Regions from separate parts of the Homo sapiens genome. Here regions 1, 2 and 3 are each linked to region 4. Evidence: fine-mapped expression QTL. A gene starts in region 4. Each other region holds a variant in brackets. All regions are shown on one strand. Distances are between the middles of the regions.

The links.
Region 1: its variant is fine-mapped to the expression of NAAA in tibial nerve (GTEx, PIP 0.95).
Region 2: its variant is fine-mapped to the expression of NAAA in esophagus mucosa (GTEx, PIP 0.91).
Region 3: its variant is fine-mapped to the expression of NAAA in whole blood (TOPMed, PIP 0.95).

Annotation. Positions count from the first base shown.
Region 1 is chr4:75,913,198-75,918,404 of GRCh38, forward strand. NAAA (N-acylethanolamine acid amidase) reads right to left here. Exons shown (of 11, transcript NM_014435.4): 10 at 1,671-1,788; 11 at 463-1,141. The coding sequence ends at 1,707. Among named protein-coding and RNA genes, the nearest start is that of PPEF2, 13 kb to the left of the region's middle. RefSeq lists an enhancer at 2,881-2,930. The variant T/C (reference allele first, on the strand shown) is at 2,324.
Region 2 is chr4:76,007,220-76,012,418 of GRCh38, forward strand. It overlaps CXCL9 (C-X-C motif chemokine ligand 9), which reads right to left and starts at 290. Exons shown (of 4, transcript NM_002416.3): 1 at 167-290. The coding sequence starts at 230. It also overlaps a transcript of ART3 not described here. RefSeq lists enhancers at 3,901-4,545, 4,833-4,892. The variant C/A (reference allele first, on the strand shown) is at 2,404.
Region 3 is chr4:75,901,675-75,906,881 of GRCh38, forward strand. It overlaps PPEF2 (protein phosphatase with EF-hand domain 2), which reads right to left and starts at 778. Exons shown (of 17, transcript NM_006239.3): 1 at 556-778. The variant A/G (reference allele first, on the strand shown) is at 2,312.
Region 4 is chr4:75,938,186-75,943,392 of GRCh38, forward strand. It overlaps NAAA (N-acylethanolamine acid amidase), which reads right to left and starts at 2,828. Exons shown (of 11, transcript NM_014435.4): 1 at 2,559-2,828; 2 at 1,816-1,980. The coding sequence starts at 2,764. RefSeq lists silencers at 2,111-2,180, 2,581-3,050.

The DNA.
Region 1 (5,207 bases), 25 kb before region 4:
TGCTAAATGTAGATTCACTGAGCACCAATAATAAGAGCTCACAAGAATGTAACCATTTGCCTCACTGTCTACCCTCTTTTTATCCCCCGCTCCTGCTTGCTCTTTCCCCTTTAAATACCGAAGTTCCTCAAACCCTCTTTGGGAAAAGCACAGGACAGGTCCTCCTGTGACTGGTGTTTCTTTTTCCCGGGCACATCCTTAGCCTTGGCAAAATAACTCTCTCATGGACTGAGTGCTGCTTCAGGCACATTTTCGTTTACACTTTTAACCTTTTCTGACTTCATCCTCAAGGACATTTCTTTCATGCACATGTGAAAAATCAAACTCTACCAAGCAGCTGTTCATTCCCTTGAATGCTGACACTTAAATAACATCACAACTAAGAGAGTTGCTTTCTCAGGACAGCAGTTCAGAACCATAAGACTTCGGAGGTAAAGAAAGCAGGGAGAGCATAACGCTAAGTTTCTTGGAAATTTTTTTATTCTCCTTGCCAACATTTCTTTTGACATTTTATTACTTAATTATGTGACATTAAGAAATAATTTGGTTGCATATTATTTTCAAAAAGCAGTAAGAAAGTAGCTATTGAGAAAGAAGGAGGGCCATAGGTTTTTCAATAAAACGTTAGAAACATTATAAAAAACGAGACTCCCATTACATGGAAACACATGATCAAAGATCAGACTAACACACATTCAAACAGGCTTGGTTCGAAATAGAGTTCTCCATTTCTTTCAGATGAGCCTTTTTTCTTAGGCTCTTTCAGAAGCACTTCACAATGAACAGAGGTCTTGCCAGCTCATTTCATTAGCGGAGAAGCAAAGGTATGATGGCAGAATCATGAGAAGATGGAAATAAGGCCTGAGGATATGGCTTGATCTCTGAGACCAATTATCTTTGAGTTATTCAGGCCAGGATAGAAGCTTAGAGAGGATCGAGGCAAACCATGAAGGGAAGGGAATGCAGGACAATGCCCATTACTGGCTTTACCACAAACTCCAAATCTCCTGGACCCACTTCGCAAGGTTGTAAAGTTAAATGAGGAAGGAGCCTGCATTGTTTGTAACATAATACAATACTTTCACTTTGTCTTATTTTTTAAGGTGCAGCTCTTCAAGAATTTCATTTTTTAAAAAATCATCTGTAAGGGAAGAAAAAAACGCATTTAATTCAAAGACTGATTTTTTTTTTTTTTTTAATGGAGTCTCACTCTGTTTCCCAGGCTGGAGTGCAGTGGTGTGATCTCAGCTCACTACAAACTCCACCTCCCGAGTTCAAGTGATTCTCCTACCTCAGCTCCTGAGTAGTCGGGATTTTGGGTACCCACCACCACACCTGGCTAACAGTTTTTTTGTAGTTTTAGTAGAGATGGGGTTTCACCATGTTGGCCAGGCTGGTCTTGAACTCCTGACCTCAAGTGATCTGCCTGCCTCTGCCTCTCAAAGTGCTGAAATTACAGTCATGAGCCATCACGCCCCGCCGAAGATTGGTTTTCATACAAACAATTCCAAATAAAATATCTAATGATGACAATCTGACACAAATGACAATGCCAGATGCTTGTCAGAAAATATTATATATGTATACATTTTAAGGATGTTACCACCCTCTGTAAGAAATACCAGCACACACCCACCTCACCCCCTCTCCACAAAACAGTAACAACAAACCTTTCACAGCACGGGCGAACTCGCTCTTCTGCTGACTTACTTTCTACTCGGGTTTCTGATCCTAGTCATGTACTTGTCTGGGCTACCGGCGCTCATTACCGTAGTATAAATTGTGAAGCTGAAAATTATGAGGAAATTTTATGTACACATCATTTTCTCTAATATGCCAGAAAGGGAAGAAAATGACCAAGTGCTTCCCTAACACTTGAGATCTGGGACAAGGCCCTTTATGCCAGAATATTTTAAATCTATGAATCAAGAGGTCAAAGTGCACTTTCCTCCTATTTTGACAACACTGTGGAAGGCCAAGTTGGAACTTAAAATTCTCAGACTTAATTAGCTGGGTGTGGTGGTGCCTGAAATCCCAGCTACTAGGGAGGCTGAGGCAGGAGAATTGCTTAAACTTGGGAGGCAGAGGTTGCACTGAGCTGAGATTGCGCCACTGCACTCCAGCCTGGGCAACAGAGTGAGACTCTGTCTCATAAAAAATAAATAAATAAAATCTCAAGACTCCTCAGAGCTCTACCCCAAGGCAGTGGGGGAGACCAAGCCTTGGCCCTCACCCTGGCTCTGTCCTACCCACAAGGGCCTTACTTGCACACATGTGACATCACCGCCTTCACATTCCCCAGCAAGCACCTGCCCCTGTGCTC[T/C]CTCTCAGTGGCCATGCACCACCATCAGGAGAATATCACCCAGGGAAGAGGAAAACACAAACCCTGGAAGTGGAGGTGGGGCTGTTCAGGCTGAGAATTACAGGGTCCTGGGTACTTGGGCAGACTCCAGGTGGGCAAATGCCCTTGGTCCAGCAGATTCCTTACACCATGCTTTGGGGGGGTGGTATCACAACTAGAGGAATTCCAGAGGAGGGCCTCTAAAGCTCCAGGATCAAGGCACCTGCCCCGCCCCTCCACCTTGCCCAGATCTAAGGATGAAAAGTATAGTGTCATTGATTACACATTCCGTATAACAAGAGACCTAAACAACTTGAGCACATGTGCCCACATGTACACACATTTGTCTTGGAATCCAGTTGAGGTGCATGTGCAAAATATCGGAGCTGGGTTGTTCAGAAACAGGCAGAATTAGTAGCACTGGGTCCACAGCTAAATCATACACCCAGTTAAAGACAGCACTGTAAGCAAGTGCAGAGCTCGTCCAAGGGTAATGGAGGTTCCCTGAACAGGACCTTAATTGCTCGTTTACTTTAGTCATAGTTCTGCTCTCCATTACTGTTTTAGTATTTTCTCTACTGATGAGCCACAGCAGAGGATGGAGATGTATTGCAGGTGGGTGTAATTTTGCAGCATGGCACAAAGGGGCAGCATAGAGCTAACTGCCTTTGTTCAGACTACTTTTTTGTTGTTTCTTTTTCTTTTTTTCAGATACAGCTACACTTATTTCTATTAACCTAATACAACTGAACAGCCTCAGTTGAGGTTAATCATTACATGTAAAGGGCCTGAGAGTCAGAAGTCTGTGTTAATTCTGGCTCCATGGTGATTGTCACTTAAAAGCAGTTTCTCTTGAATTTTCAAGTATACAACAGAGAAAAACACTACTTGGTAAACTGTTTATAATTTCTAACAATTTTATTTTGACCAAACCATTTCAGAAACCATTTAAACATTCATAACTGTTAACTCAGTAATCCTACTTCTGGGAATTCAGCCAAGGGAAATAATCTGAAAGTAAGCAGGGGAGAGGCAAACGAATATGTTTATTTCAGAGTTTTAATAGAGGAAAATCTAACAACTGGAGAATGCTTAACTCAATTATAATACAGCCAACTGGCCACTGCCACCATGTAAAATTATGAGGGCTGTTCAAAGCAGAGAAAATGCTTTGTTTTATTAAAATAAATGTAACTATTTTATTATAATACTAATTTTTAAAAGATATATTCATCACTTCTTTTTTTTTTTTTTTTTTTTTTTTTTTAAGACGGAGTCTCCCTCTGTCGCCCAGGCTGGAGTGCAATCTCAGCTCACTGCAACCTCTGTCTCCCGGATTCGAGTGATTTTCCTGCCTCCACCTCCCAAGTAGCTGGGATTACAGGCACGCACCATGACGCCTGGCTAATTTTTGTATTTTTAGTAGAGATGAGGTTTCACCATGTTGGCCAGGCTGGTCTCGAACTCCTGACCTCAAGTGATCCACCCGCCTCGGCTTCCAAAGTACTAGGATTACAGATGTGAGCCACTGCGCCCAGCCAGATATATTCATCACTTCTATAATTACCTAAAAAAACTATAAGAACACAAAAGTAGTTTATTAACCCCCATTTAAAAAATGACTATTAAAAGGGCAACATTGTGCCCCGCTATGAAGGGTACAGTCAATAGTGCATTGGAGCTAGCTCCTACAGTCTGGTGAGGGCCAATTATTAAATATGCAGGAAGTGTATGAGCCAACTATAAGCCTGAAATCAGCCATGTGGGAGTATTCACACCATGGAAGTCAACAAATGCTACAAATTTGGGAATTTTTTCATTTGTCCCTTCCCACACAAAGAGCTGGTTTACTAGCAGACCACTGGGTATGCTTTGTTATCCAAATAGCTCATTTGTTTGAGTAGCAGAATACTGACTAATTAGTTTTCTTTTCTTTTTTTTTTTGAAACAGAGTCTCGCTCTGTTGCCCAGGCTAGACTGCCATGGCATGATCTCAGCTCACTTGCAGCCTCGACTTCCCAGGTTCAAGCAATTCTCCAGCCGCTGCTTCCCAAGTAGCTGTGATAACAGGCGTGCACCGTCATGCCTGGTTGATTTTTGTATTTTTAGTAGAGACGAGGTTTCACCATGTTGGCCAGGCTGGTCTTGAACTCCTGACCTCAAGTGATCCACCCGCCTTGGCCTCCCAAAGGGCTGGGATTACAGGCGTGAGCCACCGCACCTGGCCTGCTTTCACTTAAAAAAAAAAAAAAAAGAAAAAGAAATTAAAAAGAATGTGAGTAAAATCCTAGGCTATACACTAGAGAAACCATTGCTCACAGAATGCTGCTATCAAGGGTACAGGCTAAAAAAGAACATTAACTAAGCGAATTGTCAGTGGAACAAGGAACAGCTTCGGAGATAGTGGAAATTCCTCCGGAGGATAAAAGAAAACCAAAGGTATTCAGAATTTATTTCTAAGGAGCTCCTAACAGGTGAAGGCTGTCCACAGCTACCTGACTGAGTTAGGATGAACACCTCACTGCCAGAATATTTCAAATGTAGGAATCAAGAGGTCAGCCAGTCAAAGTGTTTTTCCTTCTAGTTTGACAACACTATGGAAGGCCAAGTTTGAATTTAAGATTCCCAGAGCTGGCCGGGCGCAGTGGCTCACTCCTGTAATCCCAGCAATTTGGGAGGCCGAGGTGGGCAGATCATGAGGTCAGGAGATCAAGGCCATCCTGGCTAAAACGGTGAAACCCTGTCCCTACTTAAAAAATACAAAAAATTAGCTGGGCGTGGTGGCACGAGCCTGTAGTCCCAGCCACTTGGGAGGCTGAGGCAGGAGAATGGTGTGAACCTGGGAGGCAGAGCTTGCAGTGAGCCG
Region 2 (5,199 bases), 69 kb after region 4:
CGAAGTTATGAACTTTGGATAACTGGTCATGTCACTGAGAAGCTTTTATGACTGACCAAATATTACTCTTCAATGCAGGCAGAACATTCACCTTTATCTGGCTAATCAAGATTCTTTTACAGTGAATCACTTCTCTTACTTTACAACCTAACTCAGAACCCCTTACCTTGCACTCCAATCAGAACCAGCAAGATGATGCCCAAGAGGAAAAGAACACCACTTTTCTTCATAGTGATAGAATGGAGTTCCAAGTCACTCCTGTATTGGATTTTGAGCCTGAGAAATTCTTTAGAGAACACATTTTGGGGATCATATTTATTTAGGATATTCATTTCTCTCCTAAACTCTGATTGGCTAGTATCTTTAGCTGAGCTAACTAAATTGACCACAAACTTGATTGTGCTGGGGGAAACCCTAGTCTCAGATCCAAGGGAATTTCTGCATGTTTTTATTTCCATTTCACATAAATGGGTGGTTTATAGTAAGGGATGTGAAACTAGCAACACTGATAGCCTTTGGCACATTCACAGTTGCTCACCTGTGTGAAGAATAGGTTATATAATGAATATACTAATGTTATACAACAAAGGTTGGAGATGTGGTTTCCAGATGGGAAATATTAAAGTCCAGATAAATAATATACTTTTCAAATTCCCTTACTATTTATGGCATATTCTTCTGTATAATAGATGGCTACATTGATATTTTCTTATATTGCCCACTTAACAACTTAAAGCACCTTAATTTCCTCTGGGACCAGGTCATTTTCTACTAGTGGTAAGCTCATTCTGTATCATTCCTGCTACAGTATTATTTTTTAAACTAATAAATTGGTTAGAATAAGGGGTCAGTTGCATGTAAGAGACCCAAATTAACAGTGGCTAAGAAATGCAATAAAAATGAAGATAAATAGCTGGGACCTAATTAAAGAGCTTTTGCACAGCAAAAGGAACAGTCAGCAGAGTAAACAGACAACCCACAGAGTGGGAGAAAATCTTCACAATCTATATACCTGACAAAGGACTAATATCCAGAATCTAGAATGAATTCAAACAAATCATTAAGTAAAAAACAAACAATCCCATTAAAAAGTGGGCTAAGGACATCAATATACAATTCTCAAAAGAAGATACACGAATAGCCAACAAACATATGAAAAAATGCTCATCACTAATGATCAGGGAAATGCAAATCAAAACCACGGTGTGATACCACCTTACACCTGCAAGAATGGCCATAATCAAAAAATCAAAAAACAGCAGATGTTGGTGTGGACTTGGTGATCAGGGAACACTTCTACACTGCTGGTGGGAATGTAAACTAGCACAGCCGCTATGGAAAACAGTGTGGAGATTCCTTAAAGAACTAAAAAGCAGAATTACCATTTTATCCAGCAATCCCACTACTGGGTATCTACCCAGAGGAAAAGAAGTCATTATTTGAAAAATGTACTTGCACATGCATGTTTATAGCAGCACAATTCACAATTGCAAAATCATGGAACCAACCCAAATGCCCATCAATCAATGAGTGAATAAAGAAACTGTGGTTTATATATACACAATCGAATACTACTCAGTCACAAAAAGGAATGAATTAACGGCATTAGCAGTGACCTGGATGAGATTGGAGACTATTATTCTAAGTGAAGTAACTCAGGAATGGAAAACCAATCATCATCTGTTCTCACTGGTATGTGGGAGCTAAGCTATGAGGACACAAAGGCATAAGAATGATACAATGGAGTTTGGGGACTTGTGGAGAAGAGTGGGAGCGGGGTGAGGGATAAAAGACTACAAATAGGGTGCAGTGTATACTGCTTGGGTGATGGGTGAACCGAAATCTCACAAATCACCACTAAAGAACTTATTCGTGTAACCAAATACCACCTGTACCCCAATAACTTATGGAAAAATAAAAAAAAAAAAAACAACAACAGAAAACAGTGGCTAAGATAGAAGCTTATTTCTCCCTGAGAGATGTAGGTGGATTAGCACTTGGATAGTGGCTCTTTCCCATGAGGTCTTCCAGGCTTCTCCTTTCTTGTGTTGTCACCATCTCTAGATTGCTGCCCTCATGCACATGGCCAAAGGTGGCTTGCCACCATGTCCAATTTCCAGGTATAGGATGATGAGAAGGCAGAAAAAGGGCATGTCCCTCCTTTTTAGACATCCTAGAAGTTGCACCCATCATTTTCTATCACCTCCCATGGAGGCAGGCCTTAATCACATGGCTACACCTAGTTGTAGGGGAAGTTAAGAAACGTCATCTTTATTTTGGTTGACTAGCTAAAGATTGGAGATTTCCTTATTGTAAAACAATGTTTCTCAACGTTTTTTTTCATTATGGACTCAGCACTGCATGCGTGTGTGCGCGCATGTGCACCCACACACACACACACAC[C/A]CCCCCACATTTCACCTTGCTCTGAGAAAAAATAAAATGAACTGAAAACTAAATTTAATTTCTTCCTGAAGAGAGAAATCAAATGCTAAGAAATAAGATTTTGTTGGGTAGGGTTGAACCTTGGTAGGCCACTAGTCATTGCAATATCTAAAATTTTTTAGCTCTCCAAGAACCAATATTTTCCCCCTTGGGAGCAATTTACCTCTCTTCCCATTGACAATGCATGCTGTAGAATTGGAGGAAAATGGATATTAGCATTTCATGTCACATGGTGCACATTTTTTGACTGACTTCTATACAGATTATTAATACTTAAATGGAATTACAGAATTCTTTTTGAATAAAACATGTGGTGACCATTGATACAGCTTATCCATTTGCTCATGCTTAATTTTGGTACTGACTGTGGCAATGCATAGAGTGCAAATAGGTTCACGTTCCTGCTTTACCACTTAATGACTGTGTGCAAAATACTTAATTTTTGTGAGCTTCATCTCCCTCATTTAAGAAAATTATTAGACCTCACAGGGTGTTAAAATTAATGCCAAGGACGGATTGTCAACTGCAAAGCCTCACAGGGCTAGTGGCTGTTCTTTCCAGCAAAGAAAGGAGGATGGAAATTTCTTAGGATAAGAACTAAGGCCCAGCACTGTTGGTGCTACCCACCTTTCTAGCCTCTTCTTACACAGCTCTCTGCTCCCATCACTTTGTCTTCTCTCAGTTTTCTTTTCTTTTCTCCTTCTCCTTCCCCTCCCCTCTTCTTTTCTTTTCTTTTCTTTCTTTTTGAGACCGTTTTTTTTTTTTGCCCAGGCTAGAGTGCAATGGTGCAATCTCAGCTCACGGCAACTTTCGTCTCCCAGGCTCAAGCGATTCTCCTGCCTCAGCCTCCCAAGTAGCTGGGATTACAGGCATCCACCACCATGCCAGGCTAATTTCTGTATTTTTAGTAGAGACCGGGTTTCACCACGTTGCCCAGGCCGGTCTCGAACTCCTGACCTCAAGTGATCTGCCCGCCCTCCCAAAGTGCTGCAATTGCAGGCGTGAGCCACTGCACCCGGCCCTTCTCTCAGTTTTCAAAGGGGACAATGCTCCTTCCCATGGCACTGTTTTTGCTCATGCCATTCTTCTGCCTGGAGCGACTGTGCATGCTCCTCATTCCTGCCCTCCTGCATAGTAGTTACTCACCATAGTTACCCAGGCCAGCATCATTTCCCTGGGAAGACTTTCCTGAACCCCAGAGGGGCTCTCACCGCACACTTGCAGAGGCCTTGCTGAGCCCGTGTCCGCAGCAACGCTACGTTTCCCTGCAACCCTATGGTTAACATTTCCTTCCACCACTAGGCAAGGAAGGCCTGCGACGCTCCCCGTCTGAGCATGGTGCTAAACACAGTGCCTAGCACCCAGTAAGCGCACACGCATGAGGGAAGGAGCTGGGAGCTGGCTCGGCAGGTCTGGAAGTTGGATAGGGTCTGTAAAGGGCTGCCTGGCTCCAGGGGCCTCACACGCAGCGACCTCAGCCGGGCCCAAGGTGCGTGTACTGCGCATGCCCAGCCAACTGGTCTTCCAGAACCTTCTTCAGTGAGGAGGTTATACCCGGAGGTCTCGACGCTCGCTCGTGCTGCTCGTGTTGCCGCTGGGTACGTTTGCTGCCAGTGCTGATCCAGCCGGAGGCGAAGAGAAGCACTTTGGGGGCAAAAGGTAGGGGTTGTGCCTTCAGGATCTCTCCTCTCTGTCCCCTGAGCGGCCCGCAGCCTCCCCAGCCGAGATGGCCGTGCTTTTGGGGATGGGTGGGAAGGTTCTCAGCGGCGGTGGCCATGAGCGAAGAGGCCCGTTTTGCAGGTTTCACACGAGGCTTGGGTGAGGCCAGCAGGGAACGACGGCCCCAGAAGGGCCAGGGCACTGGGCTTAGGGGTAACCCTGGGCCGTGGGCTTCAGTGACTGGGAAAGAGGCCCTTCGGATAAGAGAAAGGAGGTGTTGGGGTCAGTTGGGAGTCACTGAGGCCAGATCTTATTTGTTACCCAAAAAGGGGCTAATTTTCTGAGATAGCAAGCGGAATGGGAGGGCTTCTCTCGCCTGACCCTACTTCGTGGTGAAACTGTTCTGCCATGGTAGGGTAGGGCCCCGCCCCTCTGAGCAGGCTGGGGCCGCTGCGCCCAGCTCAGGCCTGTCCAGACACTAGTTTCCTGGGCTTCGTTTAGGAACTTGTCATGCAAAGTCTGAGAGCAACCACATTCTCTCAGGAAGCAGGCAGCGGGAAGGAGAAAATCCCATTGATCGTTGCATTTATGGCTAGACAAGGCTTTTAGGAGAAACAGAAACCTGATGAGAGGATGTTGCAGGCGTTTCTCACAGCCCTGGGAATGGAGCCAAAGATGATCTAGAGTTGAAATCAACAGTTACCAATTCCTTTTTGGACAAGAATTTTAACTTCCTGTGCCTTGAAAAATTCCAGTTCTGTGTCCGTAGGGGATCCAAATGCTAATGTAACCCCAAAGAACTTTACAAAGCGGAATTCTTAGTTTTCACAAGTGTGGCCCAGCCTCCCTCTTGAATCTTTTTGGTTGTGGAATCGAGGTGTTCTGTTTAATTATCCAGTGTGACTGACTCTGTGGCAGGGACGGTAAGAGCCTTCCCTTTTTACTTGTGAGAGGAGAAGTTTCTCTCATAAAGAAACCTCCAGGCCTGTTTGAATTTCTCACAGTGTGGATTTCCCCTCCTCTCGGCAGCTGTTGTTAGTATTAAACTGACTAGAAAGGGGTTTATTTCTTGAAAGTCTTAGAAGCCCCAAGAGAATA
Region 3 (5,207 bases), 37 kb before region 4:
TTCTCCCCCTGATGATTTCCCAAGCTGAGCCATCTCTCCAGGTGATGAGTACATCCACCCAACGTGGGTGAGACCCCTTCTCCTTCTAGAATTTGACTTAGCATCATCAATGCCTCACATTATCATGAAAAACAAAAATTAGCTAGGGGTGGTAGTGCAGCATGCCTGTGGTTCCAGCTACTCAGGAGGCTGAAGTGAGAAGACTGCTTGAGCCCAGGAGTTCGAGGCTGTAGTGTGCTATGATTGCACTTATGAACAGCCACTGCACTCCAGTCTGGGCAACATAGTGAGACTCTGTCTCTTAGGTGGAAAAAAAAAGTGTTTATCTGTCCACTAAGTGAGCCCAAGAAATCCAGGGCAGAATGGTCACCCAGCACTTGAAGATCTCATCACACAGATAGCAAAGACCCCATCTGGATGAGTTGATAGATAACAGAGGAGCTGTCTTTGACCTTTGTCTCAAAACAACTCTGTATTTATTTCCTAGGTAAAAACATAAGTGTCGCCCTCCTGTTCTCACCCATTTCTACTTTAGGCTAGACAGAAAGTTCTTACCTTCTTTGCTGGGTTTTTTATTTACCATGAGACACAACAAGGCAGAAATCTCTTTAACATGCAGGCGTGATCCCCATCCTGTCTTCAGAGTTGGCTGAGGGATCCCAGGCTGATCTGATTTCTTTCAGACCTACAGAGCCCATAAAGAAGGTGCAGCCCTAGTCTGCCATGTCTTCTTCCTGAAAAGCAATGGTGACATTCACAGCCCTGGCCAAGTATTCACAGTGACAGGAAGGAAAGTTCAGGCTTCTTGCCTCGAAGGAGTAGGCACCCCCTGACGTCAGTCAGATCAGGCCCCCAAGGAAGATTTGAAGGGGGCGACTGCATAGTCGGGGTATCTCCCATATACCCAAGGAGATGGGTTTCTCTAACAGCACCCACGTCAGTCCTAAATCTTCTTACTCTCCTGGATTAGAAGACTGTGTTTCCCAGGCCACATCTGAGAAGCCTGAGCTCCTTAGCCCTGAAATAGCAGAGTGCTGACAAGACACAGGGGCCTAGGGGCTCTGGAGTCCAAGGGGAGTCCTCAGCAGAAGACACATAGGAGGCATTCTTTGTTGGGGCTGGCTTTTCTGTTTGCAAAGCCTGCTTGAAATATCCTGCCCTTTCTATGGACACTTTCCTTAGGATATAACCTAATCTGTGGTTAATCACTATTCTTGGACAACTTACTTTTTCAGTTAATCTAAGATGCTCGTGTGTGTGTTCTGGTAGGTACTAAATGCACCATGGAAATTCTCAAAGAAAGTGATATTCTGTTTGTCTATATCTAGTAGGTCAAGTTTGTTCATTATTATTATTATTATTATTATTATTTTGAGACAGTCTTGCTCTGTCGCCCAGACTGGAGTGCAGTGGCACAATCTCAGCTCACTGTAACCTCTGCCTCCTGGGTTCAGGCAATTCTCATGCCTCAGCATCCCGAGTAGCTGGGATTACAGGCACCCCCGCTGCCATGGCCAGCTAGTCTTTCTATTTTTAGTAGAGACAGGGTTTCTCCATGTTGGCCAGGCTGGTCTCCAACTCCTGGCCTCAAGTGATCTGCCCACCTCAGCCTCCCAAAGTGCTGGGATTACAGGTGTGAGCCTCCACACCCGGCCTAAATTTGTTAATTATATTAATTCAGATCCTCTTTATCTTTGTTTATTCTTCCTGATCTGACCATCTTTGAAAGAGGTATTTTGAAGATTTCTATGACAAGTACAGATTTAGCAAATTCTCCTTGTATTTGAGTCTTTGCATTACACGTTTTGAAGCTATATAATTAGATATTAAATTTAAACCATGTAAAATTGCCATCGGCAACTGTGTAATTACACATGAAGCCGTATTGTCATTTAACTGTCTTGGTAGAGGGTGACATAAAAATTAAATATCACTCTGCCTTTTAAAATTCTTTTTGCATTTGATTCTCTTTTGTCTGATATTAACATTTTCACATTAGCTTAGTTTTTGTTAGTGGCTGACTGCTAACATTCTTTCTCCAAGTTGACTAAAAGACTGATAAAATCCTGTATTACTGAGAGTATGAGAAAAAGGACCCTCTCCATATACTATTGCTGGGATCGTTAAAATGTTTCATTTTGGGGGAATTAAATTAAATTTTAATTGTAATTTATTAAATTACATACTTAAAATATGTAAATCCTTTAATCTAGAAATTATACTTCTAAGTATCTTACAGAATTATACACCCATGCAAAAATCTATATAAGGATTTTTATTACTGTATAATTTGTGATTAGGAAAAGTTGGA[A/G]AATAACCTAAGATATTTTTTTATGTGGTATTACCCATATTTTCTAGTTTCCATATTGATGCTTTGACATTTTGGGGCCTTGTTGACCAGGGAGAGACTACACCTCCTGGGATTAGCTGATCCCTGAGATGCAAACTAACCAATCTAGAGCCCTACCACCAAATCCCTCCTTTTTTGGACTTTCATACTCAAGGCCGTTATCTCTCTACCCTAATCACCCTGACATCATATATCAGACAACTCAGTGCAGTCTACAGTCAGGAGTCAGCTGACACTATTCCAACTAGCTAGTCCTCCACCTGCTTAGCCGCCTTACCCTGCCTCACCCATTCCTTCCCTCGAAAACCACAGTTCTCCTGTCCTCTGCCTGTGACCAACCTCAGTGTTCTCTCCCGTGGCTGTGCAGGTGTGACCTCTCCTCTTGGGAACGAGGAGTAATAAGCTATCTTTTAAATGGCAATTGTCCCCTGATCTGTTGGCCTTATCATACCTGAATAAAAATAGAATCTACATTTTAAAACGTTTATGCATTTTTAAATGTCTTAATGAGTACAGATGGCAGTTATCACTAGGGGTACTCATGGGGAGAGTGCCATCCACAAGTGGGGAAGAGAGGCAGAGGATCACATTATGTACTGTTTGATTTATTTTTATATTAGAAATCTGTTACTTGTGTTCTTATTATTATTATTTTTTTTTTTTTGAGACAGAGTTTCGCTCTTGTTGCCCAGGCTGGAGTGCAATGGCGCAATCTCGGCTTACTGCAACCTCTGCTTCCTGGGTTCAAGCGATTCTCCTGCCTCAGCTTCCTGAGTAGCTGGGATTACAGGCATGTGCCACCATACCTGGCTAATTTTTTATTTTTAGTGGACACAGGGTTTCTCCATGTTGGTCAGGCTGGTCTTGAACTCCTGACCTCAGGTGACCCGCCAGCCTCAGCCTCCCAAAGTGCTGGTATTACAGGCGTGAGCATGGTGATGCCCAGTCACTTGTGTACTTTTTAAAAACAGAATATTTTGAAAACCAGCTCTCTCCATCTGCCATGAAAGCTCTGTAGGCCAAGCCATTTTTATTTAAAAATATATATATATTTTTTGAGAACGGGTCTTACTTGCCCAGGCTGGTATTTGCAGTGGCACAATCACAGCTCACTGCTGCCTTGACCTTCCCGGACTCAGGCAATCCTCTTGCCTCAGCCTCCCAAGTAGCTGGGACCACAGGCATGTGCCACCATACCCACCTAATTTTTGTATTTTTTGTAGAGATGGGGTTTTGCTATGTTGTCTAGGCTGGTCTTGAGCTCATGCAATCCACCTGTCTCGGCCTCCCAAAGTGCTGGGATTACAGGTGTGAGCTGCTGCGCCCAGCCAAAATTTTTTAAATAAAATTTTCAATTTTATTTATTTATTTATTTATTTTAGGCCAGGCGTGGTGGCTCATGCTTGTAATCTCAGCACGTGAAAGGCCGAGGTGGGTGGATCACTTGAGGTCAGGAATTCAAGACCAGCCAGGCCAACACGGCAAAAGCCTGTCTCTACAAAAAATACAAAAAATTAGCAGGGGATGGTGGTGTGTGTCTGTAGTCCCAGCTATTGCAGTGAGCAGAGATCACACCACTGCACTCTGGCCTGGGCAACTGAGTGAGATGCTGTCTCAAAATAAAAAAATAAATTTTAACTTTTTAATTAAAAAATTTTATTGCCTCTTGTTTTTAAAATTTATTTTATTTTGGTAAGAACACAACATGAAATCTACCCTTTTAACAGATTTTCTTCTTTTTTTGAGACAGGATCCCACTCTGTCACCCAGGGTAGAATGCAATGGCATGACCACAGTTCATTGCAGCCTCGACCTCCCAGGCTCAAGTGATCCTCCCACCTCTGCCTCTTAAGTACTTGGGACTACAGGCACACATCACCACTCCCAGCTAATATTTTTATTTTTGTAGAGACAGAGGTCTCACTATGTTGCCCAAGCTGGTCTCAAACTCATAGACCCAGGCAATCTTCCTGATATGAACAGGAGACGGGGAAATACTGGAAAGTTATTTATTTTGTTTGATTTATTTACCTGCCAAAAGCCCCACCCTCAAGCCTGGAAACCCGAGGCCCCAAATGGGAACAGGCATTCCTGTTTTCGTGCCCAAATGTTGCATCTTGGCCCGCCACACCCCACATCCTGTACCCATATAAACCCCGAATCCCTGGGTCCATGAGGAGATGAGCAGAAGAGCCAAAGAACTGAAGAACGGCATGGCAGAGAAGGAGCATCTGAATATCTAGAGGAGTCCAGCTGGGGACAGTTGGAGAGGAGTTCTGCCACAGGACTGCTGAACTCCAAGGGAAGATCATCTTTCCACTCCGTCCCCGTTCCAGCTCCCCATCCATCCTGCTGAGAGCCACCTCCACCACTCAATAAAACCCCCATATTCACCACTCTTCAAGTCTGTGTGTAACCTGATTCTTTCTGGGTGCTGGACAAGGGCCCGGGTACCAAGGGGACACTGAGCTGGTTAACACTTAAGCCATCTGTGGATGGCAGAGTTAAAAGAGCACTGTAGCATGCCTACTGGGGCTTCAGGAGTCAAAGCACCACCCCTAGAAGCTGCCCTGGGGCCAGAGCCCAAAAGCGCTCACTCTGGTTCCTGCACCTGCCTGTCTGTATCCTCCCGCTCCTATAAGGGGTTTGAGCTTGTGGCAGCTGAACAGAGATCAACACCCCTGTTGAGTGTCCTGCAAGGGGAGCCAGGGAACTCTCCTGTTTCACCCCCACCTCCGCCTCCTAAAGTGCTGTGATTATAAGATAAACCACCACGCCTGGCCTCTTAACAGATTTTTAAGTGTACAATAGGCACGACGTACAGATCTCTAGAAGTTATTCACCTTGTATAAATGAA
Region 4 (5,207 bases):
GTATTATTCTAATTCAAGAAGGCTTACTTCCAACATGAGAAGAAAGCATTTCCTTTGTTAATGCTAGTGAATTGAATGGTGCTATTAGGCAATTCAATAAATACCTTAGTATCAAATCCAAAAGTTAGAATGTTTTTACTAGAACTTTTGCTTTAATGTGTTTGAATATGGTGACTCCAACAGATGAGGGTAAAAATGATTCGTGATTTTTCATTGAGAAAGCTGTAAGTTAAAAATAGGAAAAAGTTGGAGGTAGGAGAGGGAGGTGGTAAAATTATAATAACTTAGTTCAACTGAAAAGCATGTTATTTAGCAGGCCTGTGTCTTTTCTGTGCCTGAAAGCATTTCCTGAAGAGGAAGGCAGTCCCAGTGCTTTTTAGCTTACTCTGCCTAGGTGTTCTGGGAAAATGCCTGGGCCAGTAAAGTTTCATTATTCCAAGATCTTTTCTACCCCCATCATCTTTAGGCAGCAAGAAGCTCTAAGTATGTACAAGAGGTTACGAGATGAAGCTAGTCTGCTGGCAAAACAATAAGTATTGAAGGAAGAAACCAAGTCAAAACCTCTCTTTATTCCAGGGCCTATTACTGAGCCCATAAACCTTTAGTGGTCCCCTGCACTTTGCCTGGGATCAACCACACACTCCATGTTGCTTTCACTTCTGGGTGCACTTTTTTTCTTTGATATGGAATCTCGCTTTGTCGCCCAGGCTGCAGAGTGCAATGGTGCCATCTTGGCTCACTGCAACCTCTGCCTCCTGGGTTCAAGTGATTCTCCTGCCTCGGCCTCCCAAGTAGCTGGGATTCACAGGTGCCCGCCACCAGGCCCTGGTAATTTTTTTGTATTATTAGTAGAGACGGGGTTTCACCATGTTGGCCAGGCTGGTCTTGAACTCCTGACCTCAGGTGATTCACCCGCCTCGGCCTCCCAAAGTGCTGGGATTACAGGCGTGAGCCACCGCGCCCAGCCTGGATGCACATTTTATCATGCCCACTTCCCGGTCCAAACACTGGCTGGCCCTATTAGAGCAGTGTTCCCTGTCGCCCCAGCCCTGGTGGACACAGACACTTCAGCCACGACACACATGAAAGGATAAATGCAGGGCGACAAATAAGGGCAGAGATGAGCCACTGCCAGTATAGAGCTGGAAGGCCACTGAGTTAACTAAAGGGTCCAGATGAGAGGAGGCTTAGTTTCAAAAACTTCCTGGAAAAGTACGTTTTGAGCAGAATTTTTTTTTTTTTTTTTTTGAGACAGAGTCTCGCACTGTCGCCAGGGCTGGTGTGCAGTGGCGCGATCGCGGCTCGCTGCAACCTCCGCCTCCCGGGTTCAAGTGATTCTCCTGCCTCAACCTCCTAAGTAGCTGGGATTACAGGCGCCCACCACCACGCCTGGCTAATTTTTTGTGTTTTTCGTAGAGACGGGGTTTCACTATGTTGGCCAGGCTGATCTCGAACTCCTAACCTCGTGATCTGCCCACCTTGGCCTCCCAAAGTGCTGGGATTACAGGTGTGAGCCAACGCGCCCGGCCTTTGAGCAGAATTTTAAAAGTACGCTACCTGGATTGGGGAAGAGAAAACCCGGGGCTACACGTAGAGGGAAAGTTTAGTGTTGAATCGGAGAATCTGCTTTCCCTCTCGAAGCCTACGATGTGCAGCTCAGATTTACCCAGAGAGGCAAAGAGGAAGCGCTGGAGGTTTCTAGGCAAGCAGGCACCGCCCTGTTTTTATCACACGGAAAATATGTCTCCTCCCGCTAGTCTGTGTCGGGGGCCCCCGCAAGCCCCGCGTTACTCCGCGCGGGCTTGGGGCACTCACACGGAGGACTCGTAGGCCAGGTTGACCAGAAGGCAGTCCGCCAGGCTGAGGTTCATGAAGTCACACATGCCGCGGATCTCGCCGGTGAAGGGCTGGGGCAGGAAGCGCTCCAGCTCCAGGACCACTTTTCCGATTAACACGTGCACCCACTTGGGGACTCTGTCCCTAGAAACAAAAAGCACAAGGGCGTCTGACCCGCTCAGAGGTCGGCGGCGTGCGACTGCGTGTGCACTGCGAGCGGGGCTACATCCTTAGGGCGTGAGGTCTCAGGGCCACTGCTCCCCAGTCAGTGGACCGCCCAGGCGCGGCGTCACTCAATCTGCAGCCTCCCGGGAGTGGGGGGAAGGGGGCGGGGGGAAGGCGGCGGGTAAGAAAACTCCGAATGGGGAGGGCGAGTGAGGCTGGTCCCAAAGGGGCAAGCTTGGAAGGCCCGCGAGGCCCGCAAGGAAGGCGCGGGTTGCCCCTCCTTGGTAGCTATGCAGCCCGGGCGACAACTCGCGCGCCACGCTGACCCGGAATGGCTCAAGGACTGGCGTGCCACGGGTGACACCGAACTTGAAAGCCGAACCTGCCGCGCTGGATTCTCCCCAACCCGGACGCTGCTCAGGGCGGCAGCCAAAACCAGTTCTCCAAGGGTGGCGGGGAGTAAAGCGTCCCCGTTTAAAGCACTCTGAGCAGCGCGCGTTTGACTCCGACCCGCAGGGCCGGTGTCCCCGCAGACCCCGTCCAGGGCCCCAGCTCACCCGATGACTTGCGCCATCGCGGCGCGCACCAAGTCCAAGTCGTAGTGCCGCAGCACGGGCAGCCAGCGCAGCTCGGGGACCGAGTCCAGGCTCACGTTGAAGCGCGGCGCTGCTGGGGGCGAGGCGGCTGACAGCCCGGCCCCGGCCAGCAGCAGCAGCAGCAGGGACGGAAGCCCCGGGCGCGCCTCCCGGTCCGCGGTCCGCATGGCTCGGGCTCCAGCGGCCGCAACTTGGAGACCTGCAGCCGCTGTCGGAGCCCGGGTAAGCCGTGGAGGAGGAGGAGCTGGGGCTGGGCTGCGATCGCTGGAGGTGGGGCCCGCGCACGACCCGCCCGCCCCTGTCACCGGCAAGCCGGAGCGGCGACACCTCCCGTCCCCGCCGCGCATCCACTAGCCCGCCCCGACTCTCCATCGGGCCTGGAGGTCCCTGACCGCGGGGCCGCTAAGGGTTGGGGCTGCCGGCAGCCGGCTTCTCACCAACTGCCGGTTCCAGCGCACCTGCTTGGGCCGAAGGAGTGTAGGCTGCGGCCGGGAGGGGCTGTAAGATTTTCAGTAGCGAAAAGGTGTCAGGAAAGACTTTTCAGTTAAACTTTGTTTGCTTGTTTGTTTGTTTGTTTGAGATGTAGTCTCACTCTATTGCCCAGGCTGGAGTGCGGCGGCGAGATATCCGCTCACTGCCAACTCCGCCTCCTGGGTTCAAGCGATTCTCCTGCCTCAGCCTCTCAAGTAGCTGGGATTACAGGCGTCCACCACCATACCTGGCTAATTTTTGTATTTTTGGTAGGGACAGGGTTTCACCATGTTGGCCAGACTAGTCTCGAATTCCTGACCTAAGGTGATCCACCGGCCTCAGCCTCCCAAAGTGCTGGGATTACAGGCGTGAGCCACCGCGCCTGGCTGGTAAAACATTTTTTTAAAGCTCAAAATTTAGTGAACATTTATCTGCTAAATATTTTTCGCGGACATTATCTCATTTAATCATCAAAACAAGCCAACAGGTAGGTTCCACTAATCCTCGCTTTACTGATGAGGAGTGTGAGGCTTGGAGAGGTGAAGCCATGTACCCGAGGTTACTCTGCTGGTGTGTCTCTGCACTGGCCTCCAAGTAAGGAGGTCTGAATCCACAATCCACCTTCACACCTAAGTTTCTTCACCTTTGAGTTCCCAATGTCTGGGAGACAAACTTAGGAAAATCTTAGTAAGGCTGGGACATTCTTAACGGTTAGCACAGTTGTCTGTGGGTAAAACAGGGTACATGTGTACATGAATAGTAGAAACTAAATGAAAGGGCCGGGCATGGTGGCTTAGGCTTGTAATCCCAGCAGTTTGGGGGGCTGAGGCGGGTGGATCACCTGAGGTCAGAAGTTTGAGACCAGCCTGGCCAACATGGTGAAACCCTGTCTCTACTAAAAATACAAAAATTAGCCGGGCGTGGTGGTGTAATCCCAGCTACTTGGGAGGCTGAACAGGAGAACCTCTTGAACCTGGGAGGCAGAGGTTGCAGTGAGCCGAGATTGTGCCAATGCACTCTAGCCTGAGTGACAAGAGCAAAACTTTGTCTCAAAAAAAAAAAAAAAAAAAAAAAAAAAAAAAAAAAAAAAAAAAAAAACTAAATGCATAGTAGAAACTAAACACATTTTTTTTTTATTTTTTACCAATTTTAGGATGAAGAAATACAACTTTTATAATCAATCACTTGTTTTTAAGGATAACACTTAAAGGAATTACAAAATTTCTTGCCAGACATGGTGGTTCACGCCTGTCATCCCAGCACGTTGGCTGGCTGATCATCTGAGGTCACTTGGTTTAATGAATAGAATCAGAATTGCTGGTGGTTGACTTCCAAGACTAGGTCACAAAAGACACTGTGGGTTTCTCCTTGCTCTCTTGAATTGCTCACTATAGGAAGCCCATTGTCATGTCCTGAGGAAGCCCTATGAAAATGTCCCTTTGTGGCTGGACACAAATCTCAGCACTTGGAGAGTCAGGCAGGAGGACTGCTTGAGCCCAGGAATTGGAGACCAGCCTGGGCAACAGTGAGACCCCATCTCTACAAACAAATAAAAATAAATTAGCCGGGCATGGGGGCATGTATCTTTAGTCCCAGCTACTTGGTAGGCTGAGGTAGGAGGATTACTTGAGCCCAGGAATTTGAGGCTGCAGTGAACTATGATCACGCCACTGTACTCCAGCCTAAATGACAAAGTGAGACCCTGTCTCCAAAAAAGAAGTAAATAAAATTGAAAAAAAAGAAAAAAGAAAGTCCCTTTGTTGAGGAACTGAGCTTCTACCAAGAGCCAGAGAGGAACTGAGGCTTCTTGTCAAGTCATCTGAGTGAGCCATGGTGGAAGTGGACCTTCCTGCCTCAGCTAAGCCACCCCCAAATTCCTAACCCATAGAAACTGTGAAGCAGGCCGGGCATGGTGTCTCACATCTGTAATCCCAGCACTTTGGGAGGCCGAGGCGGGCAGATCACTGGAGGTCAGGAGTTTGAGACCAGCCTGACCAACATGGTGAAACTCCGTCTCTACTAAAAATATAAAAATTAGCTGGGCGTGGTGGCGGGTGCCTGTAATCCTAGCTACTCGGGAGGCTGAGGCAGGAGAATTGCTTGAACCCAGGAGATGGAGGTTGCAGTGAGCCCAGATCG